7 separate regions of the Homo sapiens genome follow, and regions 1, 2, 3, 5, 6 and 7 are each reported to be linked to region 4. Evidence: microRNA targets listed by miRTarBase, many of them from high-throughput screens and not tested one by one. Region 4 holds a microRNA gene; each other region holds the end of a gene's coding sequence. Distances are between the middles of the regions.

Region 1 (4,051 bases), not on the chromosome of region 4:
GGTGTGCTCTTGAGGCGAGAGGCCCCCGAGGAGCTGCTGGCCTACGAAGGCGTGCGGGCAGCGCTTGAGGCCCTGCTGCCCTACACTGGTATGTGGGCACAGCCTGGGGTTGGGGGATCCTGGTGGGCGTGTGGACCACCCCCCTGACCTCCCTCTGTCCAACCCCAGAGCGGCACTTTCAGCGGCTCAGCAGGACCCTCCAGGCCGCCGCTTTCTTGGACTTCCTGTGGCACAACATGAAGCTCCCTGTGCCGGCCGCCGCCCCCACCCCCTGGGAAACCCATAAAGGCGCACTGCCCTAGCCGGTCCGGCCTCTCTCCAGTCCATCCTGAACCCCTGGAAAACCCATAAAGGCCGCTCTCCTGGCCGGCTCTGTCTCTCTGGACTGCAGTCCAGCCCCCCACCCTGGCCAACACCCTACCTAGCCAGCCAGAAGGGCACTGGAGCTGATGGTCTCGGCCCTGCCACGCCCATCCCGCACCCTGGCCTGGCAGAGATCCAGCCCGCGGCTCCGCACGCTTAGACGGTGGGGGTCATGCAGAACAAGCTTTACTCAGAGGAACAGCAAATGGCCCCCTCCCATCCCTGCTGGCCAGGGAGATCCGCCCTCCCCGCTCCTCCCCAGCCCTGGGATGGCGCGGTCCATCCCCTCATCGGGATCCTCGCGCTCACTGCTCCGTCGTGGGGTGCGGCACAGAGTCCACGCACCCTCGAGGGCGGCCCTGGCGCCGTGGGCGCCGCTCCAGGGCCCTGCGTGTGACGGTGCAGCAGCGGCTCTGGATGGCGCCCGGCGAAGGTCGGGTGGGCACGGTGGGGGGAGGGGCGGTGGCCTGGGAGGGTTCAGGGAAGCCCCGGGCCTCACCCGCCGGGTCGTCTCCTCCACGGAACCCCGTCCCGCTCAGGAGAGCGCCCAGCCCTTCCGGCCGCAGCAGCACCGCGGGGAGTAGGCCCGCCCGGTCGCCGTACCTGCGAGGGGCGGGGTGTGGTTAGGGCCCCGCCCGCCTCGGCTAGCCTGCCCTGCCCACGCCCGCTCCCGCGTACCTGCATAGCCACCAGCCGCGGTCTGACGTTTCCAACACGCGCACGCGCGCCCCCGCGGGCACGGACAGCTCATCTGCGCGGCTGCTCTCGTAGGCGCGGGAAGCACAGAACTGGGGACCTGGTGGGAGTGGGTGTTTGGAGTCACCGCGGGGCCACAGAGGACGAGGCCCGCCCGCACCCTTCTCCACATTCTCCTTGCTTGAGTCTGCTGACGGCGGGGCCGCTCTAAGACCGGTTCGGGGCTTCCTCTAGGTGCGGAGACCAAGCACGGGCTCCTGGCCCGCCCTGCCCGCGGTGCTTCTGGCCCAGTCTTGCCACACGGTCAAGCCGCAGTGGTGGCGTGAGGGGTGGGGTTAGGCGCATACCGCTGCTCCCTAGGGACGGGCCTCCCTCCCGGCCTTGGCCCGGGGCCGCCTCCTCCAGGTAGGGCGCTGGAAACCAGGCGGTCTGCCGGTCTTCGTTCTCCACCAGCCACCAGCCTGTGCGCAAGAAGCGGGCAGGGACTCAAATCTCGAGGCTCCCTCGGGTCCAGGAGCAGAGGAGCAAATCCCTGGGTTCTTGGGGGGCCCTACCTGAGGGGTGCCGCAGCAGCACGTCCAGGCTCTCCTGGGCCTGCGCCTGAAAAGGCCTATCCCGCGTGTCCTGGGTACAGAAGGGCTGCAGGCAGCGCAGGCTCTGAGCCTCCAGACTGTGGATGGAGAGGCGGCCCGCAGCGCGAGAAAGAGGCTGCTCCTCTGGGGTGGGCAGGATCACCCGGCTGGGAAGGGCAGCCCGTACGAGTGAGAGGTAGGCGGATGGGGAGGGTGAAACTGGGGGCGCCACCCCGGCAAGACCGCCAGCCTCCCACTCTCTGCCCCTATTCGCTGGCTGTTCCCCCCCACCCTGGACCTCTCCCAGCTCCAAACGCCGCTGCATGCTGGGAGTTTGGGGCGAGTCAGGCACCTGCCGGGTGGCAGCGCGGGCTCCAGGTCCAGGGGTTGCGGTGCGAAGAAGCCAGTGATCGTCGGGCTCCGTGCCACGCGCTCTGCAGTCGCCAGCAGCCTCCGAGAATAGGTTTCCAACAGCTGCAGGCGCGCCAGGCCGCGGCTCGTGCGCCCCACGCGTCCCAACAGTGGTGCATCTTAAGGCACCACAAAAACGTACTGTGATACGCCGCTTTGGGCTTCACTGGTCCCTGGCGCCCCCAGGCAAGCCACCGCCTTCCCCGCTCCCGTACCCAGGCTGGCCTGACCGAGAAGCTTTGGGAGAACGCGGTCAGATCTCCGCAGCAGGCCCGCCTCCACCGGGAAGGTCTCCTTGAGGGTCTTCTGAGGGCGGGAACCAGGGCATTGGTCTTCCAGAGCCCACTGTGCACCCTTGAGAGGGCGGGGTCCCTCACCCGGATGGCAGGGGCTGGGAGCTTCAGCAGGGACGAAGGGCCTCCAGTGGGAGTCACTGATGGGAGGCAGTCCAGTGGGAGGCAGCCGCGTGGGGAAGCCGCCACCGCGGCATCAGGGTGGCCCAGGGTCACTCACCTTGAGCTGCCTGAATTCGTCCCAACTCCTGCGCACGAAGGTGTCGCTGCCGTCTGACCAGCGCACAGAGAAGGCAAACGTCTGGGGGACAAAAAGTTGGGAGTGCCGTGGAGGTGCTGGTCCAGGCACCCCCTTCCTATCCCTTGGGGCCACTAAGGACCCAGCCAGGTCTTACTTGGAGCCTCTTGATCTGCACCAGGGCTGCCCCTTGCACTGAAACTGGGTATCGGGGGCCTGCCATGGCTGTGGCTTCCAGGCTGCAGATTCCTGAAATGGGCGAGGACCCTTCTGCCTCCCCGTGCTTGAGAGGGCTCTGGGGGACCCAGAAAACCCCCTGGGATAGAATCCTGGCAACACCTCAAGCCTGTGGGGTCCTTGTGGAGCCGCCCCAGCTGAGTCCTTTGCAGCTTTCTTGCTGTCCCCCAAGCCCACGATCTGGGGGCAGGAGCACAGGGATTGGGGGACTTCCAGGCAGAGCTGCTGGGAGGAAGAAGAAGAATGAGCTTTCCAGCCCTGGAGGCGTGCAAGACTGAAGAAGGGGCGAAGGGTAGGCGGGACTGCTGCCTGGGGCCCTCCTGCCTGCCTCTGGCCACAGGAGGAGGGAGGAGAAGGCAGGGCTAATCAAAGCGCCACCTGTCCTGCCCACCTCTCTGGATTCCCCTACCCTGTGAGGTAATTGCCCTGCCAGGGTGCGCCCAACAACTTTGAACTGGCCTGGGGATTTCTGTGCAGAACCAAGGACTCAGTGCTTACAGCTTTAAGTGCTTTGTCTGACTTAATCCTAATGCTGGAGGAAAGGTCTCTTAATGTCCCCAACTCATAGAGGAGGAAATGTGTGTTAAATGCGTAATTATTGTGAGCTGTTCTATACATGCTGGGGGAGGGGCAGACCTCACAGGCTCACCCCAGGGGTTCCCCTGCAGTGAGGAGACTTGGGGTAGGAGAAAGAGGGCCCATCTGTGCAGTCACTGGCATTTGGTGGGTGGGGGTGGTGGTCAGGGAAGTGGTCACTAGGGCTGTTTTGAGAACCACCTCTCAATTCACGATTTGCCATGACTTACTGCAAACATGGCCTGGGCAGAGGCTCGCCCAGGTGCCCCACCTCTCTGGCTGCTTCCTTATAGTTCGGGCTTCGGAAGCCACATTCAACCCTGGCACACAGTGGTTTTTCCTCGTGCTGGGGCCACCAGTTCTGTGTTGGGATGCACCTACTCCAGCCCCTTCAGGGAGCAGTCAGCCTCTAAGGCATCCCTCCAGGAAGCTGCCCTGGCTGCAACAAAGGGCCTTTGTGTGTCTGTCCCACCAGCACTCTCTCTCATGCCCTCAAGCTGTCCCTGGTCTTGGCATGGGCAATGAACACCTGCTCACATAGGGCTGATTTGCAGGGTTCCCCCAGCCAGCTGTCACCTTCTCCCTGTCTCAGCTGAGGGCCCAGCTGACCTGGTGGGGTCCAGCGTGTGAACCCAGGGGAGACCTTGCTCCCCTGGAAGACAGGA
Region 2 (4,063 bases), not on the chromosome of region 4:
GTTCTTCTTCTGAAGGGTAGGGAGCACTTTCATCTGCCTTTCCCCTTCAAGTTACAGATGAGCAGCAGGAGGGCCGCTTTGTTTCTCAGTTGGAAAGAGGGGGTCTAAGCTCTGGCTTCCCAGAAGTAGGTGTCAGAAACTGGGGGCCGGACAGCCTATAGTTTGATCCTTCCCTATTGGGTGGGCTCCCTGTTTTCTGACTTGCTTCTCTCTTGCTTCCTCAGTGACAGCTCCACTGCCGCCCCTGAGTGGCCTGGCCCTCTTCCTCATCGTCTTTTTCTCCCTGGTGTTTTCTGTATTTGCCATAGTCATTGGTATCATACTCTACAACAAATGGCAGGAACAGAGCCGAAAGCGCTTCTACTGAGCCCTCCTGCTGCCACCACTTTTGTGACTGTCACCCATGAGGTATGGAAGGAGCAGGCACTGGCCTGAGCATGCAGCCTGGAGAGTGTTCTTGTCTCTAGCAGCTGGTTGGGGACTATATTCTGTCACTGGAGTTTTGAATGCAGGGACCCCGCATTCCCATGGTTGTGCATGGGGACATCTAACTCTGGTCTGGGAAGCCACCCACCCCAGGGCAATGCTGCTGTGATGTGCCTTTCCCTGCAGTCCTTCCATGTGGGAGCAGAGGTGTGAAGAGAATTTACGTGGTTGTGATGCCAAAATCACAGAACAGAATTTCATAGCCCAGGCTGCCGTGTTGTTTGACTCAGAAGGCCCTTCTACTTCAGTTTTGAATCCACAAAGAATTAAAAACTGGTAACACCACAGGCTTTCTGACCATCCATTCGTTGGGTTTTGCATTTGACCCAACCCTCTGCCTACCTGAGGAGCTTTCTTTGGAAACCAGGATGGAAACTTCTTCCCTGCCTTACCTTCCTTTCACTCCATTCATTGTCCTCTCTGTGTGCAACCTGAGCTGGGAAAGGCATTTGGATGCCTCTCTGTTGGGGCCTGGGGCTGCAGAACACACCTGCGTTTCACTGGCCTTCATTAGGTGGCCCTAGGGAGATGGCTTTCTGCTTTGGATCACTGTTCCCTAGCATGGGTCTTGGGTCTATTGGCATGTCCATGGCCTTCCCAATCAAGTCTCTTCAGGCCCTCAGTGAAGTTTGGCTAAAGGTTGGTGTAAAAATCAAGAGAAGCCTGGAAGACATCATGGATGCCATGGATTAGCTGTGCAACTGACCAGCTCCAGGTTTGATCAAACCAAAAGCAACATTTGTCATGTGGTCTGACCATGTGGAGATGTTTCTGGACTTGCTAGAGCCTGCTTAGCTGCATGTTTTGTAGTTACGATTTTTGGAATCCCACTTTGAGTGCTGAAAGTGTAAGGAAGCTTTCTTCTTACACCTTGGGCTTGGATATTGCCCAGAGAAGAAATTTGGCTTTTTTTTTCTTAATGGACAAGAGACAGTTGCTGTTCTCATGTTCCAAGTCTGAGAGCAACAGACCCTCATCATCTGTGCCTGGAAGAGTTCACTGTCATTGAGCAGCACAGCCTGAGTGCTGGCCTCTGTCAACCCTTATTCCACTGCCTTATTTGACAAGGGGTTACATGCTGCTCACCTTACTGCCCTGGGATTAAATCAGTTACAGGCCAGAGTCTCCTTGGAGGGCCTGGAACTCTGAGTCCTCCTATGAACCTCTGTAGCCTAAATGAAATTCTTAAAATCACCGATGGAACCAAACATGAGCTTCTGACTGTGTTCTTTCTTCTAGGAGTGGGTTTGGGGAAAGTTCAGGCCTTTATTCTGAGCAGGCCTTTTTTTTGAGCTTCAAGCCCATCAACCGTTGTTTTGCCTTCTCCTGGGTTGGAAAAGCCCTCAGCTCAGCTCAGAAGGAAAGGGGGTCACCTTGGCTAGGCAGAGGTCTCTGTCTCTTCAGGCTTTCTTTCCTTCCCATGCACTTAAACAGCACAGGCTATAGTGCTCTCCTGCAGGTGGGATTCAGGTGGAGGCATCTTCCTCCCACCTCCCCTCCACAATAGTAGAATGGCTCCAGGGTGCCAGAGGACAAACTGACCTAGAGCTTGGCCTTGGAGCAGGGAGAACTGAAAAAGAAAATGGTGGTTTTGTCTTTTTTGAGTTGAAGGGGAGATTGTATGGACCCGTGGGAGGACCTAGGTGGGCTCTTGAGATGGCCAAGGCAGCAGTGCAGGTGGAAGGGGTCTCATCAGAGGGGAGGGGCAGAGTGAGAGAGATGGAACCTGTAGGGTTTGTATGATTCCAGCTCATGAATACCTTGAGGCTTTTTAAAGAGGGCAGGGAAGACATGAAATGCAGTCCCCACCTGCCTTGGGGTCCTTTAGAGAAATGTATGGTGCAAGAAAACCACCTGACCTGGCATAGGATGCCCTGCTTTGGTTCTTGCTTTTTGTTCTAGAAACAAATGTTTCCCATCATGAATGGGTGGAATGTTGTCCTGGGCAGTGTCATCCTAGCTGTGCTAGAGGAGGGAGATGCCTGGTCCGTGGTAGGGCTGTTCTGTACATGCATGCTGTGGGTGAGAGCCAGTGCTTCGGCTTGCTGCTTACCCATAAGGGCCACTTCTCACAATCACCCTTTCCCTCCATTGCCCTCTGATTCCGAGCCTCTTAGCATGAAGAGACCCTGTGGACTAGAGGTGGTATATAAAGATGACATCACTCCCTGTCCCTGTGAGTCTTGTCTGAAGGGCTGGCATCTTCAGCCTTTCATGTTGTCTTCAGCGCCCCCAAATTACAAGATGGCTCTCTGTTATAGAACTTGTTTATTTCAGTGGAAAATTACAGCTCTGCTCGTCTTGTTGAAAGTGATTTCTGAACACAATAGCCAGAATATTCCTAGCATCTTGCATATATTCTAGAAGATAGAAACAAAGAACTGGTAGCCAGCCCAAGGGGAGGGCTGTTGGTAGCAGGAGGAAAGCCAGGCAGCATGGACTAATTAGTCTCCTGGGGCTGGAAGTTCTGGGAAAATATCACTCAGGTGATTTGTGGGTCCTGGGTGGAGTTTCCACTCATGGTCTATTGTAGGCTTTAGGTTTGGATCCTGGGTGGGAAGGATGGAAGAGCTGGCGTTGCTGGTGTTTAGTGAATTGATGATATTGAATATTTTAATGGGAGGATACAGCTGAAGTTGAGGTTTGATCCAGCTCATGGCCAAATAGTGCTAGAGAGAACAGACAACAGTTAGCCTGGGGTGGCAAGCTGAAGACGCTGTCCCCAGAGTCATCCCGAGACCACCTTTGTCCTTGCCCCCATGGCTGCCACTCACCGGAGCTGAATAGATGAAGTTAAACAGCATAAGTGCTATAATCGATATGACCATAAAGGCTATGAGTTTGAAGCGATAGCGTTTCCAGAAAATATAGCAGAAGTTTTGAACTGGTGACCGCAGCCACGTGAAAGAGGTGTTGGTGCGTCTGTCCAGGAGCCAGGGAGATGTCAGAGAATGGCAGGGAGAACCTTCAGGTCAAGTAATCTGATGCAAAGAGCTTTCTTTTTTAAAAAAGCAACTACTGGGCCAGGCACAGTGTCTCACGCCTGTAATCCCAGCATTTTGGGAGGCCGAGGTGAGTGGATCACCTGAGGTCAGGAGTTTGAGACCAGCCTGGCCAACATGGTGAAACCGCGTCTCTACTAAAAATACAAAAATTAGCCGGGCATGGTGGCATGTGCCTGTTATCCCAGCTACTCAGGAGGCTGAGGCAGGAGAATCGCTTGAACCCAGGAGGCAGAGGTTGCAGTGAGCAGAGATTGTGCCACCACACTCCAGCCTGGGTGACAGAGTGAGACAATTATCTCAAAAAAAAAAAAAAAAAAAAAAAGGCAACTTTTGCTTACTCCAACCCTCACCCCAAGTCTGTTCTTTGCTGATTGTAACTGAGCACAGAGCTGTGGGGTGGGAGGTAATTACCACCTCTCCATGATAGGCCCACTGGTCACCACCCCATACACACTGAGGAGCAAGAAAGATCTGGTGCTTTTGCCCCAAGGACCCTTACAGGGGAGGATGAAGTGTGGGGTACTGGTTGGGTTCCGACTGGCCTCGCCCGGCTGGCTTGATTAAGGCTTCCT
Region 3 (4,063 bases), not on the chromosome of region 4:
TGACCAAGGAGGAGGTGACAGAGCTGCTGGCCCGATAGTATCCTTTCCAGCCCCACCGGCCCCGCCCCTCCCTGTCCCTCGAGACTTCCGCGTTCCCCCCCCACACACACCCCTGCCCCCCCAACGGCCCTGTCTGGCATTTTCCTGACGGTGCTTCGCAGTAAGCTCCGAGAGAACCAGCTGCCCAGGATCCAGGCGGGGGACCCTGTGGCGCGCTACTTTGGGATAAAGCGTGGGCAGGTGAGCCCTGTGGGGAGAAGGGGCCCTGGGGCTGCTCTGAGCTGACCACTCGGAGAAGGGGGCTTCTGTCCCTCCCCGACAGCCCCTCCCCCTTGATCCAGGGCCTGGAGGGGACCTCGAGACCACACCCCCAATATCCCCCTCTTAAAGCCAGGGCCACTGGGCCCAGAGAAGAGCGTGACCCAGGTTCCCAGGGAGCGGGTCCCACAGCCCAGGGTCAGCCATCTCGGACCCCTGCCGGCCATCCCCAGCCCGTGTGCTGCCCGCCTGCTGTCTGGTGACTGCAGTGAGACCCCTCAAGCATTCGCAGCCCCTGCTCTCTGTCTCTGCAGGTGGTGAAGATCATCCGGCCCAGTGAGACGGCTGGCAGGTACATCACCTACCGGCTGGTGCAGTAGCTACCGCCTGACAGGTGAGACGGCCGAGGGACAGGCACTGAGGTGGGGTCAGAGGCAGGGGTGTCGTCCCCTCCGTCGGTGTGCAGGGCTGTTCTTGCTTTGTCCGGCAGCAAGACCCTCCTAGCACCAGCCCAGCTGGGCCACCAGGCGCTCCCAGGACACCCCCAGACCCCCAGACCCCACCCGACCGTAGGCTGCAGCTCTTGGGGCTGTGCGCCTGGACGGGAGAGTCCTGGTACGCGGGGCGTGCGTCTCTCCGCCGCTGACCCACCTTAGAAGCAGGAGACGTTCACCTGCAGGGCAGTTGTGCGGCGGGACTTTCCAGAAGAGGGTTTAGAAACCTGCCCAGAGACCCCAGAGCTGAGAGAGGAGGCACAGCTTCAGGCCAACCCTTCCCTGAGTGGGCACCTTGGGAGGGACTGGCCGGAGTCTCAGGAGCGGGACAGCCTCTGCCCATGGCGAGAGCCTCCCAGCTTCCCCTGGACTCTGGTCATGGCGAGCTGCTGTCCTGCAGGCCGCCCCACTTCACACTCAGCCCAGGGGTGGGGCTTGGCCTGGTCTGACGCTGGCACGGTTCCTTTGAGGTCAGAGCTACTGCCCACGCCTGTGTGACCGCTGGGCACAAGGGAGCCGTCCGGCCTCTGCACTGCGGCCTGGGCCGCCTCCTGCCAGGCCTCCCGCACCCCGTCACGTTCGGTGGGCGTTGTGCTGTCCTGGGCATACTGGATCTGCCCCTGTCGTGTGACCACTCTCCCCCTTTCCTAGCCCCTAGAGGCGGACACACAGCGACCCCCATCCCTGCAGGACAAACGCCCCTGCCCTGCCAGAATCCGGCCCCCACAGCTCTCACGGCTGCTGCTCCTCTGGACTCCCCAAGGCAGGTGGCCTCCACCCACGTTCTCCCGTCCTGGGGTGAGGCTTCCTGTGGCCCAGCCCGCCCCATTCACCTGTGGATTTGTGCGAGATGCAGCCTCAGAAGGAACAAGGCCCCCAGAGGGAGGTCACCTGGGGGCAGCTGGTGCCGGGTCTTCACCCAGACCACGCTGGGTCCCCTCTGTTGGGGGTTTGGGGTCCGGGTCTCCCACCAGCCACTGCTTCCTCCTGGGCCCTCGGCCTTCCACCCCTCGTCTTCCCTCCCTCGGGGGCCCTGATGCGTGGCGGCCCCCGCCCGGCCTCGGCTCTTTACTCCATTCACAGCCATGCACGCGCTCAAGCCACCAGGGTGCGAGATGCCAGCTCTGGAGTTCTCGGTTGTTGTAGGAGGTTGGGTGTTTTCAAATGGTAAAGATGTTTTGAGCAAATAAATTTGCTTGATACAGAAACCAGGCCGACTAACAAGGTTTCCAGCAGGTGGCCTTGCCTCACCCCAAGCACACGAGGTCAGCCTGGCAGGTGTGCCCTCCTCGCGCTGGCTTCAGGGGTCAGTGTCTCCCCAGGCCCTCGCCCTGCCCTCCCACTTCGTGCTCCTGGGTAAGGCGTGAGCGTGTCTGTCTCTTCCCTTCCCGTGAGGGTGTGGAGTTGTTCTCTGGCTTGTGCAGCTGTGGTTTGCGGCCAGTTCCTCTTACAGACGTTTGGGATCTGGCTCTACTTCCCCGTTTGCTTACTGTCTGATTTCAGAAGGCCTCGCCTGCCCAAGTTTAACCTAGCCACGTGGTTCTCTCACAGTAGCTTTATTAAGATGTAATTCACCCTCGGGCGGTCGGTGGTCTGTAACGCGCCCACTGTTCTGTGCAGCAGGGTCCCCAGATCCCCAGGCCGCGGACTGTGTGTGTGATGGGGACAGTGCTTCCCCTTCTCTCCAAATGTACTTTTTTCAAAATTGTCTTGGCCAAAGCAAGCCAGACCCAAAGGGACAAACACTGATGTCACTCCTAGGAGGTCACTAGAGTCGTCAGAGACTGGAAGTAGGATGGGGGTTCCCGGGACTGGGGAGTTGGGTGGGGATGGGGGTTCCCAGGGCTGGGGAGGAGGGAGGGGACAGAGTGTGTCATGTGCACAGTTTTAGTTTGGGAAGATGAGAAAATTCTGGAGGTGGCCGGGCGCGGTGGCTCACGCCTGTAATCCCAGCACTTTGGGAGGCCGAGGTGGGCGGATCACCTGAGGTCGGGAGTTCGAGACCAGCCTGACCAACATGGCAAAATCCCATCACTGCAAAAAATACAAAAATTACCTGGGCGTGGTGGTGCATGCCTGTAATCCCAGCTACTTGGGAGCTAAGGCAGGAGAATCACTTGAACCCAGGAAGTGGAGGATCGCTTGAGCTCAGGAGTTAAAAGACCAGCCCGGGCAACACAGAGAAACCCCCCACCTCTACAAAAAACTTTAAGATTACCTGGGCACAGTGGCTCACACCTGTAATCCCAACACTTTGGGAGGCTGAGGCGGGAGGATCATTTGAGCCCAGGAGGCCGAGGCTGCAGTGAGCTACGATTGTGCTCCTGTACTCCAGCCTGGGCCACAGGGTCACACCCTGTCTCAAAAAAAAAAAAAAATGCAGTTCCACAGGCGCATGGGCCACGTTTCCAGTGCTTGGTGGCCATGTGGGGCTGACGTGCGAAACCTTAGAGCCGGGGGATACGTCCGTCATCGAGAACGTTTTCCTGGACTGCCCTGGGCTGCAGGTGGACGTGACGAGGTCATTCGATGCCTGACCGTCTGCACAGCCTGTGGTGAAGACCACCCGGGCTCCCACCTCGCGGGGCCCCGTGGCGGGGGGTTCCCTTCCTCACACATCCCTCCCCTAGGGGGAGGCCCAGGGCCACGCCACGGGGCTCTCTCTGTCCCCTCCCTGGCCCCTTCTTCTAAGCTTGCAGCTGCCACAGAAAATCTTCTAAGCTTGCAGCTGCCACAGAAAACACCCGATTAAAAACTTTTTATTTCAGCAAAATAAACGTGCCTGTGAAAGAACCACACGGTGGCTTCCGAGAGACCCCACTGTGTACCTGAGCCCCAGGTGGCCACACCTGGTGTTCTGGAAAAGGGAGTCCAGGGCCAGTATTCAGGCCCTGCTGTACTGCACCCTGGAAACTGCACCAAACCCCAGCTCCGCCCCCATCCACGGCTCCCAGAATGGTTTCTGGAGTCCCTGCAACAGACCTGTGAGGAGAGGGCAGGGCAGGGCCTGCCTCCTGCGTCCCCGTGATGACCTGGGGGATGCACTGGGCAGGGACAGCTTCCTCCATCCACACAGCCCTGTGGGCACCAACAAGGCCACTGTGACTTCACACGACAGCAGTGTTCCCCAGCTCAGCTGAGCCGGGGTGCAGGGGACAGCACAGGGCACAGTCCTGTGCCGCAAGGCCCTCGTGCTCCTGGAAGCCTCTGGGAGGAGGCGCCCGCTGGTGGGACGTCGAAGTCCAGGCGCTCTCGGCAGCGACCCCAGGACGGCGCACCTAAGCTATGCCGTGGTGCAGGGGACGTGCTGG
Region 4 (4,063 bases):
TATCATGACCTATTTACACACACCAAAAATCCTGCTCACTCTTGACCTGCACCTGTGCTAAATTCAAGGCAAATCACTAGTTCAAAAAATACATCTTTAAAGAGTGCCTGTGTCTGGATGGAGCCTTCCTGGTCTTGTACAAAATACCCGGGAGTAAGAACTTTCAGCTATACCCCAAGTTGCTCCCATCTATTAGTGCAATGCTTGTAATTCACAATTCTATGCACAGCTACTGTGTCCCTACCAGTGGGTGCTCCTTTAGGCTGGTTCACCCGGTATCCAAGCCATTACAAGATGGGAGAGGGTGAAATGTAAACCCTAGCAGACCAAGCAGTAAAAAGATGAACGGCTTTGGAAATGACAGGGTGAGTGGGAGGAAAAAGTACAGAGAAAGAGGAGTTCCAAAGCAAAGTGACCACAGAATATATATTTCTCAAACTGCTTGAACTCCCAATAAAATGACTTGGAGCAGTGATGGAAGAAAGACTCCATCCCAGAGAACTGGGCAAGCACTCAGCGTCCTACATTTTTCATGCCAAAAATCTCGTTTTTACTATATTATTTCTTCCAAGAAGCCCTACCTTTAACTGAAAAAGGGATACAGAGGACACCTACTTTCTTCTACTTGGGGACTTTACTCGGTTGTGGAACAATGAACTAGACAGACACTACTTAGCTATGATCTTCATCCTTTTTCTTAGTGAGCAATTTTTGTACAGTCTGATTCAGCAAAACAGAAAACAAAACAATTCAAAGGACCCTGCTCTGGCATCCACTATCTCCGCACAGCCGGGCGCGTGGCGCACCGCAAGGCTCTCTGCACTTTCTTCCTCCCCACGCCTCTCCCTGTATTTGTTCTCAGAGCTCTCAAATGGTCAAATGAGCTTGCTCAAAACCAACTTACCACTATATCAAAATCTGTTCCTGTCTTTGTTGGAATAGGAGTTCAATCTTCCCCAGTACTGGCTGTACTTGAAACTTGCTCTCCACAATCAAAATTTGCCCAATTCCTGATTATCAGCCAGAAAGCTGCTTTATTTGCAACTAAAATATACCTTTAACTTTATATGGACAACCTAAAATTCTGGCTCTAGCTGTGTGTGAGGGGGGACATACAGAGGTGAGAACAGGCCTTCTTTGGTCCCACACCCTCCACCCTCCAATATCCTTACCTCTTGGGCAGGTGAGCGAAGGGGTCCTTGGCCTTGGGCTCAGCAGCCAGCGCCTGCTCACATTCATCCATCTCCTCCTCAGGAGCAGGGGCAGCCGCCTTTTTCTCCTCCTTCCGCTCAGCCTGGGGCTTCTGCTTCTCTTCCCGTGAACCCTTCTCTTTCCGTGGTGTGTCCTTTTTAGGTTGGGTCTCTGCAAACTTTTTAGCTGGTGCAGAGGAAGGCAGGAAAGTGAACGAATGTTCTGCCTCTTTCCACACCCCTCCAAAACCACACAGAGCAAGCAAGGTAACAGAGGAAACTGACGAATGGGACAAGTAAGGAACTTAGGCCCCAGACTGCTCATCAGTTCACTGTGTGTCCTCCAGCAACAACACACTCAGCAACAAATACTTTATATCGCAAATCTATATAGTAATACAAATTAGTCAGGGTATGAGTGTACACGAAACTGCACATAATATTAGCTACCACATTGACACCCTACATTCTGCAGGTCCCCATAACCCAAAAGCAAGACAGGAAATCAAGGGGTTGATGCAGAGCAAACCAGACCCTGATCCTGGCCATATGCCTCCCAGTCTCCTCAGACTCACCATCAAACTGGGCCATCTTCTCACACAGTTTCACTTCGCCCAAGACAGCCCGGAACTGGGGCTGGTTAATGCAGGTGAGGAACCAGCGGTTGGTATTGGGAAAGGCCTGGCGGAAAGAAGGCTCTAGAACCTGCCAGGACATAAGGGTGTAAACAAAGTCAGTGGAAAGGCCCTGAAGAGTTCTGTTCACAGCAAGAGTCCTTGCTCTACCTAAGTCCCAGTGCTCACCTTCTTTTCAAACCCTATAGACAATAGCTTCATACAACATCATCCTTCCCTGGATTACTTCCCATTTCTTCATTTTTTTCAATTTTTTTTTTTTTTGAGACAGAGTCTCACTCTATCGCTCAGGCTGGGGTGCAATGGCGTGATCTCAGCTCACTGCAGCCTCCATCTCCTGGGTTCAAGTGATTCTCGTGCCTCAGCCTCCCATGCCTTAGCCTTCTGAGTAGCTGGGACTACAGGTGCCTGCCACCACACCCAGCTAATTTTTGTACTTTTAGTAGAGATGGGGTTTCGCCCTGTTGGCCAGGCTGTTCTCGAACTCTGACCTCAAGTGATCCGCCCACCTCGGCCTCCCAAACTGCTGGGATCTCCGAGGCGGGCGGATCACGAGGTCAGGAGATCGAGACCATCCTGGCTAACACGGTGAACCCCCATCTCTCCTAAAAATAAAAAAATTAGCTGGGCGTGATGGCGGGCAGCTGTAGTCCCAGCTACTCGGGACGCTAAGGCAGGAGAATGGCGTGAACCCGGGAGGCGGAGCTTGCAGTGAGCGGAGATCGCGGCACTGCATTCCAGCCTGGGTGACAGAGTGACTCTGTCTCAAAAAAAAAAAAATTAGCTGGGCGTGGTGGCACGTGCCTGTAGTCCCAGCTACTCCAGAGGCTGAGGCAGGAGACTCACTTAAACCCAGGAGGTGGAGGTTGCAGTGAACCGAGATCACGCCACTGCACTCCAGCTTGGGTGACAGAGTGAGACTCTGTCTCAAAAAAAAAAAAAAAAAAAAAAAATTTTAATAGAGATGGGGTCTCACTATGTTGCCCAGGCTTATCTTGAACTCGCATGCTCAAGCAATCCTCCTGCCCTGGCCTCCTAAAGTGCTGGGATTACCCGTGAGCCACCACACCTGGCCTCCATTTCTTTTTCTAATCTTTTTTTTCAGTGTAGTCCAGTTTAATGGATGGATGCTTGGGTCCATCCTCCATTTAGGAGTAGGAGTAATAATTGTCTTGCTCCTTTACAAAACTATTTCAGATCTACTGTTTCCAATCTTTTAAATTTCAAACGTCGGCCAGGAGCGGTGGCTCACGCCTATAATCCCAGCACTTTGGGAGGCCGAGGCGGGCAGATAACCTGAGGTCAGGAGTTCGAGACCAGCCTGGCAAACATGGTGAAACCCCGCCTCTCCTAAAAATACAAAAATCAGCCAGGCATGGTTGCACATGCCCGTAATCCCAGCTACTCAGGAGGCTGAGGCAAGAGAATCACTTGAACCCGGGAGGCAGAAGTTGCAGTGAGCCGAGATCGCGCCATCGCACTCCAGCCTGGGGGACAAGAGCGAGACTTCGTCTCAAAAAAAAAAAAAGATTGAGACCCACAGAGGGCTATCGAGGACTTTTTTGCCAAATAAAATCTAAACACTATAGGTATTTACTATCTATATTGGCCATACTATACACACACGCACACACACACACACACCCCCCACACCCACCCATCCATCAAACTTCAGAAAGTAAAGAACATTCAAAGAAAATATTCAAACGCATTTAGAATAATGGACAGTCCTGGCTGGGTGTGGTGGCTCACCCCCGCAATCCCAGCACTTGGGAGGCCGAGGCGGGTGGATCACCTGAGGTCCTCAGGAGATCAAGACCAGTCTGACCAACATGGCAAAACCCCATCTCTGCTAAAAATACAAAATTAGACGGGTTTGGTGGCGCATGCCTGTAATCCCAGCTACTTGGGAGGCTGAGGCAGGAGAATCGCTTGAACCTGGGAGGTGGAGGTTGCAATGAGCCAAGATCGTGCCACTGCACTCCAGCCTGGGTGACAGAGCAAGACTCTGTCAAAATAAATACATAAATAAATAAATAATGGACAGTCCTTCAAATTAAACTTAGTGTCTGGTGTATTAAGCATGGTCAAAGAAAAATAAGAATAAACAGCTTCAGGTAGAACTGTTGTCAGTTTTCAGTTTGCAAAGCTTCAGGTAGAACTGTTGTCATTTTTTAGTTTGCAAAGACCAGAAGAGGAAAAAAAATCTTGTCATGGAAACAGAACACAGCAGTCAGA
Region 5 (4,063 bases), not on the chromosome of region 4:
GTAAGTGTACCATGTACACTGTTCTGCATCTTGATTTTTTCATTTACTGTATCTTCCAGATGTTTTCAGATCAGTTCCTACAAGAGGAGCCACATTTTGTTAAGTGGCCTTCGACTTCATTGTATGGATGGATTTGTCTATTCAACCAGGACCTTACTGATAGATATTTGGACTGAAAGGAACCCACAAATGGCACGAGGCAGAGGAAGCCAACAGGCCAACAGACTGAAGATCTTCTTGTCCGAGGTCAGCTTTTATTTGTTACTGACAGAGGCCCCAAATCCTTCTTAGGTGTCCTTCTGGGAGAGGGTCTCCTGCCATTCCCGTGGTGTTCAGGGATGAGCATGAAGAGAAATACAAATGAACCGAGAGCAGGACCACCAGGTTCAAGTCCCCGCTTTTTACTGCCTTGTCATCTTGGCCAAGCCATTCAGTCCTTCTAAGCCTCAGACAATATGACAAATGAAGCTAAGTCTGCCAATCTTCACCCACAGGGATGTGGGGAGGCTCAAATGAAAGCAACCGTGTGATACTGTGGGAAGTTAACAACAACAACAAAAAAGCAAGTATGTGAAAATACTCTAAAAATAAAATAATGTACAAATGGATAGTGACGCTACTCAGTAATGTTTCCAAAATGGAAGGGGATTGGTGAGAAACATAATAAAGAATGGGATAAATTTAAGAAGAGTGTGGTTTCCCAGAAATCAGGACAACCCTCTAACACACTAGGGGGTACCATGATGTTTATAATCAGGGCAGTGAAAGACTCTAAAGTACTTAGGCAACAGCTACTCAGCTTGCTAATCCTATCTCCTGCTGGGCCCACACAAATTCCTAGCGGTCCACAGGGACATAGTAGTTGAGGGCTCTGATAGTTGAGAAGTTACATTCCTCTAATTTAAAACTGAAAATAACGTCAGACTAAAACTGCCCACTCATCACTCCGGCACAGTAAGCTGCTGGTTTACACTCTCCCTACAGCAGAGCAAGTGAATTGACCCAGACATCATTTTAATTCATGGGGGTTAGTGGACCCTACACCTTTCTCTCCCTTGGTTTTCCTTCTTCATGGACGTTAATATTTCGCCCCCTGAAGGAAAACAGAAATACTATACTGAAAATACTGAAATTCCTCTGGGACGGATTCAAAACCCAGGCAGCATCTATCTGTTAGGCTACAATGGAATAAATCTAGATCTTGTCAATCACCTGTTGACTGCGCCAACTGACAGGAATAATGGTCTTCTGCTGGGTCCAATGATATTCGGACTGTTGAAGGAATATGGCCAGGGAATATTATCCCAGGTTCCAGCCAGGGTTGGCCTGGCTTAGCTATCAATATCAAGGCAGGCTCAAGTATTTCCAAGCATGCTTTTAGTGCAGAAAGACACATGGGGCAGGGGAAGGGGAAAAGGGTGGCGAGCAGAGCTAGCAGTTTATCTCTATGGTGGGATGGGACACGTCTCCGGAAAGACAGCAGAGGGTTTGGTAGAGGGAAGCAGAGATCCTGAAACGACATGAGATCTTTGTTGTAAATAACGTCTTTCTGGGTCTGGCGTGGTGGCTCACGCCTATAATCCCAGCACTTTGGGAGGCTGAGGTGGGTGGATCACTTGAGCCCAGGAGTTCGAGATGAGCCTGGGCAACATGGTGAAACCCCATCTCTACTAAAAATAAACAAATTAGCCAGGCACAGTGGCACGGGCCTGTAGTTCCAGTGACTCGGGAGGCTAAGGTGGGAGGACAGCTTAAGCCTGGGAGGCAGAGGTTGCAGTAAGCTGAGATCCCACCACTGCACTCCAGCCTGGGTGACAGAGCCAGATCCTGTCTCAAAAATAAGAAATAAAAAAATAAAAAAAGTCTTTCTGGGTGAGGCTGTTTTTGTGGCTGATCATTTAATAATCTGCTTAACTATATATCCATACCTGCCTTTGAACTTTAAATGTGGTCCTGAAAAAAACTGAGGAGAGCAAGTCAACTTTTTTACTTTTTATTTTTCTAAAATTAATACATGTGCAGTCAAGCCATGTATAAATGAAAAGTCCCCTTCTCTTCAAAAGCAAAACTTAATACTTTCTGATGTTATTCTTCAAGAAATTTTCCAATCATATACAAGCATGTATATATATATTTCCTTTTCTAAACTCAAATGGAACTCACCTTTTAAATGTGAAAAATTGTCTGTATTTAAGAGAATATTATAAATGTATTGTAAAGAGGACATCAACTCCAAATTAAAATTCTTTGGATTTTTTATTGGATTCACATAAAGCAAAGAACTTACTCACTTGGACCGAGAATATATTGTAATGTTCCATAAGTCATAACTTAAGGACCGAGAATATATTGCAATGTTCCATAAGTCATAATTTAATGTGCAGTAAGAACCCATGAAGTTGTCTGACCAAAAGTAACACTCTTCTGTTGGGAAAGATTTTACATCCTTTTATTCTGGATGAATCCTGAATTCTAGATGTTGGGTTTAATGCTTCACACAATGGCACATTTACAAGAGGTACAAAACACTTATTGAGCTTTCAGGGCCACTGTAAGGGGCTTGCAGAATAGCCTCTTTGCAACCCAGAGAATTAATCTGATTCCTCTTTCCTCAGCCCACGCCTACCTCCAACTTCAATTTTACAGGAGTAGTTTCCCAAGAGTCCCCACCCCCTCCATTTGCAGAATTAAGGAAGTGGAAGGACTGGAGAGTTCAGTGTGGAAAAACGTGTGGAGTAATCTGCTTGAGACAACTGTGTTTTAGAAAAATTCAGGCTGAAGTGTGGTCTCATGTCTATGTGGCTCTCCATGAACTTTTTTTTTTTTTGGTATTTTGGCAATACGGTCTTGGTCTGTTGCTCAGGCTAGAGTGTAGTGGGACAATCATAGCGCACTGCAAACTTGAACTCCTGGGTTCAAGCAATCCTCCTACCTCAGCCTCCCAAAGCTCTGGGATTACAGGTGTGAGCCACTGTGCCCAGGAACTTTGAAGGTAAGGTTCATCAAATTCTCTTGGTGACCTCCCTTTACTGAATGAAGAGGTGCACTCTGTTGTAGTACATGCTTTTTCCTTGTGGCTCTTGGGGTCCAGTTTTTTTGCTTTTTTTTTTTTTTGAGATGGAGTCTCGCTCTGTCACCTGGGCTGGAGTGCAGTGGCGGGATCTCGGCTCACTGCAATCTCCGCCTCCCAGATTCAAGCGATTCTCCTGCCTCAGCCTCCCAAGTAGCTGGGATTACAGGCGCCCGCCACCACGCCTGGCTAATTTTTTTGTATTTTAGTAGAGACGGGGGCTCACCATGTTGGCCAAGCTGGTCTCGAGCTCCTGACCTCAAGTGATCCACCCACCTCAGCCTCCCAAAGTGCTGGGGTTACAGGTGTGAGCCGCCGAGGCCGGCCATTTTTTTGCTTTTTGAAAAATAATTTTGATTGGTCCCTCACTCACAGAGGACTCCAGAAGCCAGGGTCTGTTGCATCCATGAACACCGCTCCATGCGACTGGGAGCTCCGCCCACCACACCAACGCTGGCTCGCTGCTTTTCCAGCACTGGAAACTTCCACAACAAGGGATTCTTGGGAAAGGCAGTGGCTCAGACTACCTTCCACCACCACTTGCATCTGTCAGAGCGTTTTAGAAACCCTTAAAATTCAAACATTTCTGCTGGCTTCTCTTTTAGCTTCCTAACTTTTCGGTAGCCCTTTATGGCCAGGACAGCCCCCAGGGCAAAGACCACAATGCCCAGGGCAGCAAAGATTCCAGCTCCTATATCTGCTCCGTGGAAACTGCAGCCGAAACCGCTGTAGCCTTTGCTTTGGTACAGCGCCTGCCTCTCTTTACACACAGGAGAGCCATAGGCAGCAGAGAGGTAGTGGAAGTAGAAGTACAAGGCCGGGATGTACCCCCCCGCGATGAGCATGTCCAACAAGCCTTCGGTCACCAGCAACAGTGGACAATGCCACGGGACCCGCAGGACACCCATGGCAACGAAGAGGCAGCAGAGGGCTGTGAGGGCTCCACTACAGGCCATTGCCACAGTGACCATGGGCAGCTTTAGCTGGTAGAAC
Region 6 (4,063 bases), not on the chromosome of region 4:
ATAGCCAACCTAGCCATGGCTAACCTCCATGTCCTCGTCAGACCCCAGACCCAGACATCATCAGGTTTTGAACTCCCTTAGTCTGGCTCCAGAGCATGTGCCATAACGCAAAATTGCAAGGTTAGTACTGTCCAGTCCTTTGATCCGCAGCAGTGTGTGGAAGAGGCAGATAGAGGAGCATTTGAGTCTGGGTGTTTTTGGAGGCTTCTCATACCTGATTGGTCCCTATAATTATGAGGAAGAGAGGGATGGACATGGTTGGAGTGTAGGCATCAGCGGAAGTCAGATCCTGCCCAGACCAGCTCCCCATCCTCTGCCTATGCTATCAGCCTTGACGCACCCTTCCTCAGCACACTGGGCATCCAGGAGAAGTACCTGGCACCCTCGAACCAGTCAGTGGAGCAGGAAGCCATGCAGCTGTAGCAACAAGGTGGACCCTGGAGAGCAGGATGCATAATCCAGCACTGGGGAAAGTGGAGGCTCCTGATGCAGGCTGCAGACCCAAGAGCAAGTCCTCCCAGCCAGAGCTGGCGGGCTGGCAAGGGGATATTCAGCTCTGCAAAGGACTTCTGGCCAAAAAGCCAGACATGGTGCCAAGCAGAACACCCCCCATACTGTCAGTGGTGTCCGTGAGCTCTGGGCCCTGCCACCAGAAAGTCGAGCACTGGTCCTAGTCAGGCTGTGATGAAATGTGCTACAATACAAGAGTTTATTTTCTACTTTTTGTGACTTCCAAACTTTTCTTCAGTCTTCCGGGCCCAGGGGTTTGGGGAAGAATGAGGGAGTGTCACCTAGCCTTGGAATAATCAGTATTTCCCCAAAGCATATAATTCACATTCAGTCACATAGGATTTACATTCAGTCTCCAGTCATGTGTTTTTATTAATCTTCAGTTTTTGGTTCTGAGGTTTGTTTTTTAAAAGATGGGGTCTTGCTATATGGCCCAGGCTGGACTCAAACTCCTGGGCTCATGTGATCTTCCCGCCTCAGACGCCTGAGTAACTGGGACTACAGGTGTGAGCCACCATGTCCCACAATTTTCAGTTTTAACAGAGCCTCAAGCTTCAGCTTTCACAGGCAACACTTCCTAACTAGAACTTTGTTAATGTTTTATATTCACTGTATTTGTTTTATGGTTTTATTCTATTGTTGACAAGTGTTAACTAGTTTTCCATTTACAGTAGTGGTTAAAAGTTTACTTCAAGGCTGGGTGCGGTGGCTCACGCCTGTAATCCCAGCACTTTGGGAGGCCGAGGCAGGCGGATCCCAAGGTCAAGAGATCGAGACCATCCTGGCCAACATGGTGAAACCCCATCTCTACCAAAAAATTTTTTTAATTAGCTGGGCATAGGTGGCGCGTACCTGTAGTTCCAGCTACTTGGGAGGCTGAGGCAGGAGAATCATTTGAACCCAGGAGTCAGAGGTTACAGTGAGCTGAGATTGCACCACTGCACTCCAGCCTGGTGACAGAGCGAGACTTTGTCTCAAAAAAAAGGTGTACTTCAAAAATGAAATACAAGGCTGGGCGTGTTCACTCATGCCTGTAAGCCCAGCACTTTGGGAGGCTGAGGCGGGCGGATCACCTGAGGTCAGGAGTTCGAGACCAGCCTGGCCAACATGGTGAAACCCCTCTCTACTAAAAACATAAAAATTAGCTGGGCATGGTGTTGCACGCCTATAATCCCAGCTATTGGGGAGGCTGAGGCAGAAGAATTGCTTGAACCCAGGAGGCGGAGGTTGCAGTGAGCCAAGATTGTGCCTACATTCCAACCTGGGCGACAGAGCAAGACTCTGTCTCAAAAAAAAATAGTAAGTTGTGTAAAGAAAAATATTAATTATATAATATGGCAGTTCCTATGAGAGTGTGGCAAAAATCAAGAGGGCTTGGAAGTTTTTTCTTTGCTCTTGCAACTGGCTGGATGCAGTTCATATATTTTTCAACCAGTAGGTGGCACCCCAACCTAATTTTTTGCAGTTGTAACCTGGTGGCAGAAGGGGCAGGACTGATGGCTTGGGCAAGACTGTTATGCCAAGTTTTATTTGCATGTATTTGGACTTTCTTTTTTTGGAGACAAAGTCTCTCTCTGTCGCCCAGGCTGGAGTCCAGTGGCACAATCTCGGCTCACTGCAACCTCCGCCTCCCAGGTTCAAGCAATTCTCTGCCTCAGCCTCCCGAGTAGCTGGGATTACAGGCGCCTACCACATGCCCGGCTAATTTTTGTATTTTTAGTAAAGACGGGGTTTCACCATGTTGTTCAGGCTGGTCTTGAACTACTGACCTCATGATTTACCCGCCTTGGCCTCCCAAAGTGCTGGGATTACAGGCGTGAGCCACTGCACCCGGCCACATTTGGACTTATTAACACATATGAAGTGCTTGGTATTTTAGAGTGCTTCCACACACACAATCCTCATTAGAGATAGACAGGATGGGGAGAATTAATAAGCCATTGCCCGTGTTACAGTGAGGAAGCAGAAAGATGAGAAGTTTGAACTTTGGTCAGCCTGGCTTTCTCATAACCCATTTTGCTGACTAAATTGCGAGTATCCCTCCTTTGGTATATTTATTGGTGAGAAGTCACAGCCCTTGTCCCACAGGTTTTGCAGCCAATCAGGAGAAAGAAATTAGGCACCTGTAAAGTATTACTGAATCATAGATAGTTCACCAGTGGTTTGGGCAGTTGGCAAATTAATTTAGGGACATCTGTTCTGAAACAGCATTGAAATAGGACTGACTGCTTTGCTTTCTGGTTGTGGCAGCCAGAGCCAAAGGCAGATGAATGAGGGGCTATGAGGAGGCTACTGTGGCTGGAACAGTATGAAAGCAACCTCAGCTCCCACGCCTGGCTGTAAAGGGGATAATAACTGGGTGCTGCTTCCCAGCCTCTTTCATCTGAGAAGTTCAAAGCACCTCACCCCTATTAACACCCCACAGAGTAGGTAGGAAGTACCAATAGAGCAAGCCAGGAAAACTGAGGCCAGGAGGCACAGCCTGGGGCTAGCTGTGAATCACCTGTGGGGCCTAGAGCCCAGGAATCCTGACGCCCAGGCTACTGGACAAATCCTTTATCAGGGCATTAGGGTGGGTGCTATGCTTTTGAAAGCAGTACCAACGGCTGTGGTCGTGGGTTTTGATGCTTGCCACTCACAGAGGCCCCAGCTCTCACCATAACAAACCAAATGGGGGCTGGAAGGCATCCTTTACAACTTTATGGTCTCGTATGCAAGCACCCTCAGCATTCTCTGCACCCATGGAGTGGAGATGGGTGGGAGTAATCCAAGGCCTTTATTTTCAGGCCATGGTTTGACAGCAAGGGTATTTTCTTCCCCAATAAACGTAGCTTCTGTCTACCTTCCACTGGCAGCAAAATGATTTTCTGTTCTCTGCATATACTGAGGGGATCTGCACAGTGCAGAAAGGAAGATGTCCGAGATCCAAGTGAGGCCTGTTCAGTGTGAAATGTCTAGGGTAGAAGAAAGACCATCCTCCATTATGGCTGGCATGTGGCAGTCATCCTTAAGATTATTTTTAAATTTCCTAATAAATATAGGAAAGTAAAAAACTTAGAAAATGAAAGAGAAGGCCGAGCACGGTGGCTCACGCCTGTAATCCCAGCACTTTGGGAGGCCAAGGCGGGCTGATCACCTGAGGTCAGGAGTGTAAGACAAGCCTGACCAACATGGTGAAAACCTGTCTCTGCTAAAAATACAAAAAAATGAGCAGGGCATGGTGGCATGCGCCTGTAATTCCAGCTACTTAGGAGACTGAGGCAGGAGAATCGCTTGAACCTGGGAGGCGGAAGTTTCAGTGAGCGGAGATCGCGCCATTGCACTCCAGCCTGGGTAACAAGATGGAAAGTACATCTCAAAAAAAAAAAAAACGAAAATGAGTCACCCAGAATCCCATAACGGAAACTTTCTATGGGGTCATCTGTTTAAGAGAAAAATAAATTCTATATTCAAATGTATATTTTGTGTATTCTCTTTTTTTCTCATCTCTGTAAATACCTGGAGATATTTTATGTATTCTTTCAGCCTTATTTTTATACCTGGGGTGGATATT
Region 7 (4,063 bases), 49 Mb from region 4:
AATATTACGCTAAGTAAAATAAGCCAGACACAGAAGGACAAATATTACACAATTCCACTTAAATGAGGTACCTAGAATAGGTAAATTCATAGAGACAGAAAGTAGAATACAGGTTACCAAGAGCTGAGGGAGTGGGGGTCGGGGAATGAGACATTATTGTTTTATAGGTACAGAGTTTTAGTTCGGGATGATGAGAAAGTTCTGGAAATTGATAGTGGTGATGGTTGCACAACATTGTGAACATTGCACAACATTGTGAAAATACTTAATGCCACTAAATTACACACTTAAAAATAGCTATAATGGGCCACACATGGTGGCTTATGCTTGTAATCCCAGCACTTTGGGAGGCTGAGGCAGGTGGACTGCTTGAAGTCAGGAGTTTGAGTCCAGCCTGGGCAATATGGTGAAACCCTGTCTCTATGAACAACAACAACAAAAAAGCTAAAATGGTAAATTTTATGTTATGTGTGTGTATATATATACATACATATATATATATATATATATATATATATATATATATATATATATATATGTATAGGTTTTTTTTTTTGAGACAGTCTCGCTCTGTCGCCCAGGCTGGAGTGCAATAGCATGATACTGACTCACTACAACCTCTGCCTCCTGGGTTCAAGAGATTCTCCTGCCTCAGCCTCTGGAGTAGCTGGGATTACAGGTGCCTGCCACCACGCCCAGCTAATTTTTGTATTTTTAGTAGAGACAAAGTTTCACCACATTGGCCAGACTGCTCTCAAACTCGTGACCTCAAGTGATCCGCCAGCCTCGGCCTCCCAAAGTGTTGGGAGTACAGGCATGAGCCACTGCGCCCAGCCATGTTATGTATATTTTACCTCAATTTTAAAAATGTGCTAGATACATAGGAAATAGAATAAGACATACGATATGTAAACTTAAAATATGTGTCTATAAAACAATATTTGTATTGTAAGAACATACAAATAAATTATTAGAATTAATGAGAACTCAAATTCTAAAACTGACCTAATGATGCAATACCGTTTCAATCAATATCCTAACAGTGTCATTTTATGGAGCAAGCTGATTCTAAATTTTATATGGAAATGCAAAAGTTCAAACATAGCTAATATTCTTGAAGAAAACAAGACGAAAGCATTTGATCTATTAGGTATTAAGATATAAAATAATAATAATGTAATAAAATTATCATAATTAAGATGGTGCAATTAAGGCATCATAACTAAGATAATACAAGGAATGACAATTAAACTAATAGAACATAGTAGCCCAGAAACAGACCTACATGTACATAGTTTATTTACAATAAAAATGGCATTGAATAGGAGTGAAAAAATTATGGTCTTTTCAATAACTAATGGTGGGACAACTTGATAGCCATTTAGAAAAAAAAAAGAAACTTCCTCACTACTGAGTAACAACATAAATTCTGGATCTATATCTCGAAACTAAAGTAACAAAGGTTTGAGAGGTAATATATGGGAGATAAAAAATATCTCCTTGCTTACGAGGACAACATATGGGCAGTATCTCTCAGTAATGCCCATATATTATAGTGTCTTCTTACACAGTAGATAAAAAAATAGGAAATACTAATCAGTTTAACCATATTAAAATTAAGACTGTTGATTTCCTAAGTTTACCAAACCTAAGCTATTCACAACCCTTTCTCAGTCTCTACTAGTTCCCTATTTTGACTCATTTTAAACCAGTTGGACCCTTATCTCAAATCCTTATAAATACCTTACTCTAACATCCTCCCTTTGAATCATTACCAAGACTCTGTGTCAAGTTGATGGTCTCCTTTGCTACACTACAATAGGTTTAATGAGCTTTGTTTAGTCAACAGGTTTCCTTAGTGACCTTTGTTGGGGGGGAGTAGACAATTGACAGTCCTTATCTTTTTGAGAAATATACTGAAATCTTTAAAAAAATTTTTTTTGGTAGAGATGGGGTCTTGCTATGTTGCCCAGGCTGGTTTTGAACTCCCAGCCTCAAGCTATCCTCCTGCCTCAGCCTCCCAAAGTGCTGGGATTAGGTGTGAGCCACTGTGCCCAGCCAGTATACCAAGATTTTTTTTTTCTTTTTCTTTTCTTTTTTTTTTTTGAGACGGAGTTTCGCTCTTGTCGCCCAGGCTGGAGAGCAATGGCACCGTCTCAGCTCACTGCAACCTCTGCTTCCTGGGTTCAAGCAATTCTCCTGCCTCAGCCTCCCAAGTAGCTGGGATTACAGGCGCCCGCCACCAAGACCAGCTAATTTTTGTATTTTTAGAAGAGATGGAGTTTCACCACATTGGCCAGGCTGGTCTTGGACTCCTGACCTCAGGTGATCCACCCACCTCAGCCTCCCAAAGTGCTGGGATTACAGGCATGAGCCACCGCACCCAGCCCACCAAGATTTTTATAGATTAAATTCTATTTCTAAGATCTGCTCCAAAATTAATTCAATAAGACAAAGTAGAAGTAGGTAAGATTAGTCATAAATAGTTGATGCTGGGTAATGATACATGGGAGTTCATTAGACTAGCCTGTCTACTTTTGTTTTACGTAAAATTCTCCATAATAATTTTAAAAAGTTACGTTTGTTTTTGTAGTCCTCAAGAGGGGATGTTCACTAAGGTCACAGCAAAGTTGCACTATACGACTCTGGCTTATACCCAGAAAGCATCTAGCCAAACCTAGCCTAAGTTATGCTAGATTCTGAGGTCTTGCTACGACAGAAGGAAGGGAAGACCACAGTGGTTGTAGACTTCAGAGAAATAATTCTTTTTTTTTTTTTTTTTTTGAGACAGAGTCTCGCTCTGTCACCCAGGCTAAAGTGCAGTGGCATGATCTCAGCTCACCACAACCTCCACTTCTCAGGTTCAAGCGATTCCCCTGCCTCAGCCTCCTGAGTAGCTGGGATTACAGGCGTGAGCCACCATGCTCAGCTAATTTTTGTGTTTTTAGTAGAGACAGTGTTTCACCATGTTGGTCAGGCTGGTCTCGAACTCCTGACCTCACGTGATCCACCTGCCTCGGCCTCCCAAAGTGCTGGGATTACAGGCATGAGCCACCGTGCCTGGCCTAAAATAATTCTTTTTAAGGCCCTTCTACAACACCCCAAATGTAGAACTGAGTTGCTGTATTAAATTTGACATTTAAATCTTGGTTAAAACAACAACAAAAAAAGGGATAAAGAATATTTACTGTGTTTTTTGCTTTATTTATTCAGAGAGTGAAACTGTGTTACAGTGAGCTAAATTTTTAGCTGTACTTAGAATGTGCTCCCTCCTACATTTCACTCTGGAAAAGTGAAGTATCTTATCATTTCTTAGAAACCTGGATGTGAAACTAGTCAATATTAAGATCTTATACACATCCTGAGTGATGCCCAATTTAAGGCTTTGAATAGCTATTCATGTAAGTTGACTTTTCTGTGCATTTGTATCGGGGAGGATCCAGTTCAGGTTGATGTCCTGGGAACCAGTGAGGCTCTCGCTTAAATCCTGAGGGAAGAAAAAAAAAGGAAGGAAAGACAAATGAAAACAGTCAACACTAAGGAGTTTTAGTAACTGATCTTGCTCTTATTTCTAGGGAATAGACAGTAAGTCCTGTTAAAATTGAAGAAAAAATCCTGTTTACTCATTCATGTAGTTATTCACCTTTTTTTTCTTTTTTTTTTTTGAGATAGAGTCTCACTCTGTCACCCAGGCAGGAGTGCAGTGGCTTGATTTCTGCTCACTGAAACCTCCACCTCTCGGGTTCAGGTGATTCTCCTGCCTCAGCCTCCTGAGTAGCTGGGACTACAGGCATGCGCCACCAAGCCCAGCTAATTTTTGTATTTTTTTTAGTAGAGATGGGGTTTCACCACGCTGGCCAGGCTGGTCTCAAACTCCTGACCTCAAGTGATCTGCCTGCCTCAGCCTCACAAAGTGCTGGGGTTACAGGTGTGAGCCACTGCGCCCAGCCTCACTTATTCACCTATTCAGTTTACTTTTATTTGAGTTCCTTCTATGTGCCGGTCACTGAGTTAGGTTCTGAAAATGTAAGAATTTGAAAAAACAGTCCACGTACTATGTGTT

The links. Region 4 holds the annotated microRNA hsa-miR-6747-3p (UCCUGCCUUCCUCUGCACCAG, at 1,378-1,398, opposite strand). A microRNA usually pairs through its seed, bases 2 to 8, with sites in the 3' UTR of a target mRNA and lowers its output. Matches are read on the target gene's strand: a 7mer-m8 pairs with bases 2 to 8, a 7mer-A1 pairs with bases 2 to 7 and ends in A, and an 8mer does both.
Region 1: miRTarBase lists TBL3 as a target of hsa-miR-6747-3p. Seed matches in the 3' UTR shown: 7mer-A1 at 1,784-1,790, 7mer-A1 at 2,996-3,002 and 7mer-m8 at 3,165-3,171.
Region 2: miRTarBase lists LMAN2L as a target of hsa-miR-6747-3p. The part of its 3' UTR that is shown has no 7-base or 8-base seed match.
Region 3: miRTarBase lists POLR2E as a target of hsa-miR-6747-3p. Seed matches in the 3' UTR shown: 7mer-m8 at 1,514-1,520 and 8mer at 2,855-2,862.
Region 5: the mRNA of MARVELD3 is a reported target of hsa-miR-6747-3p. Seed matches in the 3' UTR shown: 8mer at 3,205-3,212.
Region 6: the mRNA of GPN2 is a reported target of hsa-miR-6747-3p. Seed matches in the 3' UTR shown: 7mer-m8 at 1,254-1,260, 8mer at 1,390-1,397, 7mer-A1 at 1,997-2,003 and 8mer at 3,769-3,776.
Region 7: miRTarBase lists CFAP68 as a target of hsa-miR-6747-3p. Seed matches in the 3' UTR shown: 7mer-m8 at 3,011-3,017, 7mer-m8 at 2,876-2,882, 8mer at 2,198-2,205 and 8mer at 2,006-2,013.

What each region holds. Positions count from the first base shown.
Region 1 is chr16:1,978,384-1,982,434 of GRCh38, forward strand. TBL3 (transducin beta like 3) reads left to right here. Exons shown (of 22, transcript NM_006453.3): 21 at 1-88; 22 at 169-4,051. The coding sequence ends at 302. It overlaps NOXO1 (NADPH oxidase organizer 1), which reads right to left and starts at 3,086. Exons shown (of 8, transcript NM_172167.3): 1 at 2,731-3,086; 2 at 2,556-2,636; 3 at 2,273-2,348; 4 at 1,984-2,161; 5 at 1,614-1,798; 6 at 1,407-1,520; 7 at 1,042-1,159; 8 at 534-966. The coding sequence starts at 2,796. The coding sequence ends at 669. RefSeq lists enhancers at 1-208, 209-788, 789-1,368, 1,369-1,946, 1,947-2,526 and 1 more and silencers at 933-1,052, 1,845-2,139.
Region 2 is chr2:96,703,560-96,707,622 of GRCh38, reverse strand. LMAN2L (lectin, mannose binding 2 like) reads left to right here. Exons shown (of 8, transcript NM_030805.4): 8 at 225-1,694. The coding sequence ends at 367. It overlaps FER1L5 (fer-1 like family member 5), which reads right to left. Exons shown (of 53, transcript NM_001293083.2): 51 at 3,991-4,063; 52 at 3,261-3,408; 53 at 2,740-3,155. The coding sequence ends at 2,931. Among named protein-coding and RNA genes, the nearest start is that of LMAN2L, 34 kb to the left of the region's middle.
Region 3 is chr19:1,086,061-1,090,123 of GRCh38, reverse strand. It overlaps POLR2E (RNA polymerase II, I and III subunit E), which reads left to right. Exons shown (of 8, transcript NM_002695.5): 5 at 1-37; 6 at 162-240; 7 at 573-652; 8 at 1,404-3,550. The coding sequence ends at 638. ARHGAP45 (Rho GTPase activating protein 45) reads right to left here. Exons shown (of 23, transcript NM_012292.5): 23 at 3,496-4,063. Among named protein-coding and RNA genes, the nearest start is that of POLR2E, 7.3 kb to the left of the region's middle. RefSeq lists enhancers at 1,069-1,168, 3,735-4,063.
Region 4 is chr11:62,565,634-62,569,696 of GRCh38, forward strand. MIR6747 (microRNA 6747) reads right to left here and starts at 1,438; the gene lies at 1,378-1,438. EEF1G (eukaryotic translation elongation factor 1 gamma) reads right to left here. Exons shown (of 10, transcript NM_001404.5): 6 at 1,766-1,895; 7 at 1,173-1,377.
Region 5 is chr16:71,634,380-71,638,442 of GRCh38, reverse strand. It overlaps MARVELD3 (MARVEL domain containing 3), which reads right to left. Exons shown (of 3, transcript NM_052858.6): 3 at 1,978-4,063. The coding sequence ends at 3,640. It overlaps LOC124903711 (a long non-coding RNA gene), which reads left to right. Exons shown (of 2, transcript XR_007065108.1): 2 at 60-608. Among named protein-coding and RNA genes, the nearest start is that of MARVELD3, 10 kb to the right of the region's middle. RefSeq lists an enhancer at 408-959.
Region 6 is chr1:26,876,037-26,880,099 of GRCh38, reverse strand. GPN2 (GPN-loop GTPase 2) reads left to right here. Exons shown (of 5, transcript NM_018066.4): 5 at 351-3,968. The coding sequence ends at 423. It overlaps GPN2-AS1 (GPN2 antisense RNA 1), which reads right to left and starts at 3,966. Exons shown (of 2, transcript NR_199049.1): 1 at 3,790-3,966; 2 at 1,855-1,982.
Region 7 is chr11:111,883,195-111,887,257 of GRCh38, reverse strand. It overlaps CFAP68 (cilia and flagella associated protein 68), which reads right to left. Exons shown (of 4, transcript NM_022761.3): 3 at 4,056-4,063; 4 at 1,283-3,487. The coding sequence ends at 3,378. Among named protein-coding and RNA genes, the nearest start is that of CFAP68, 5.7 kb to the right of the region's middle.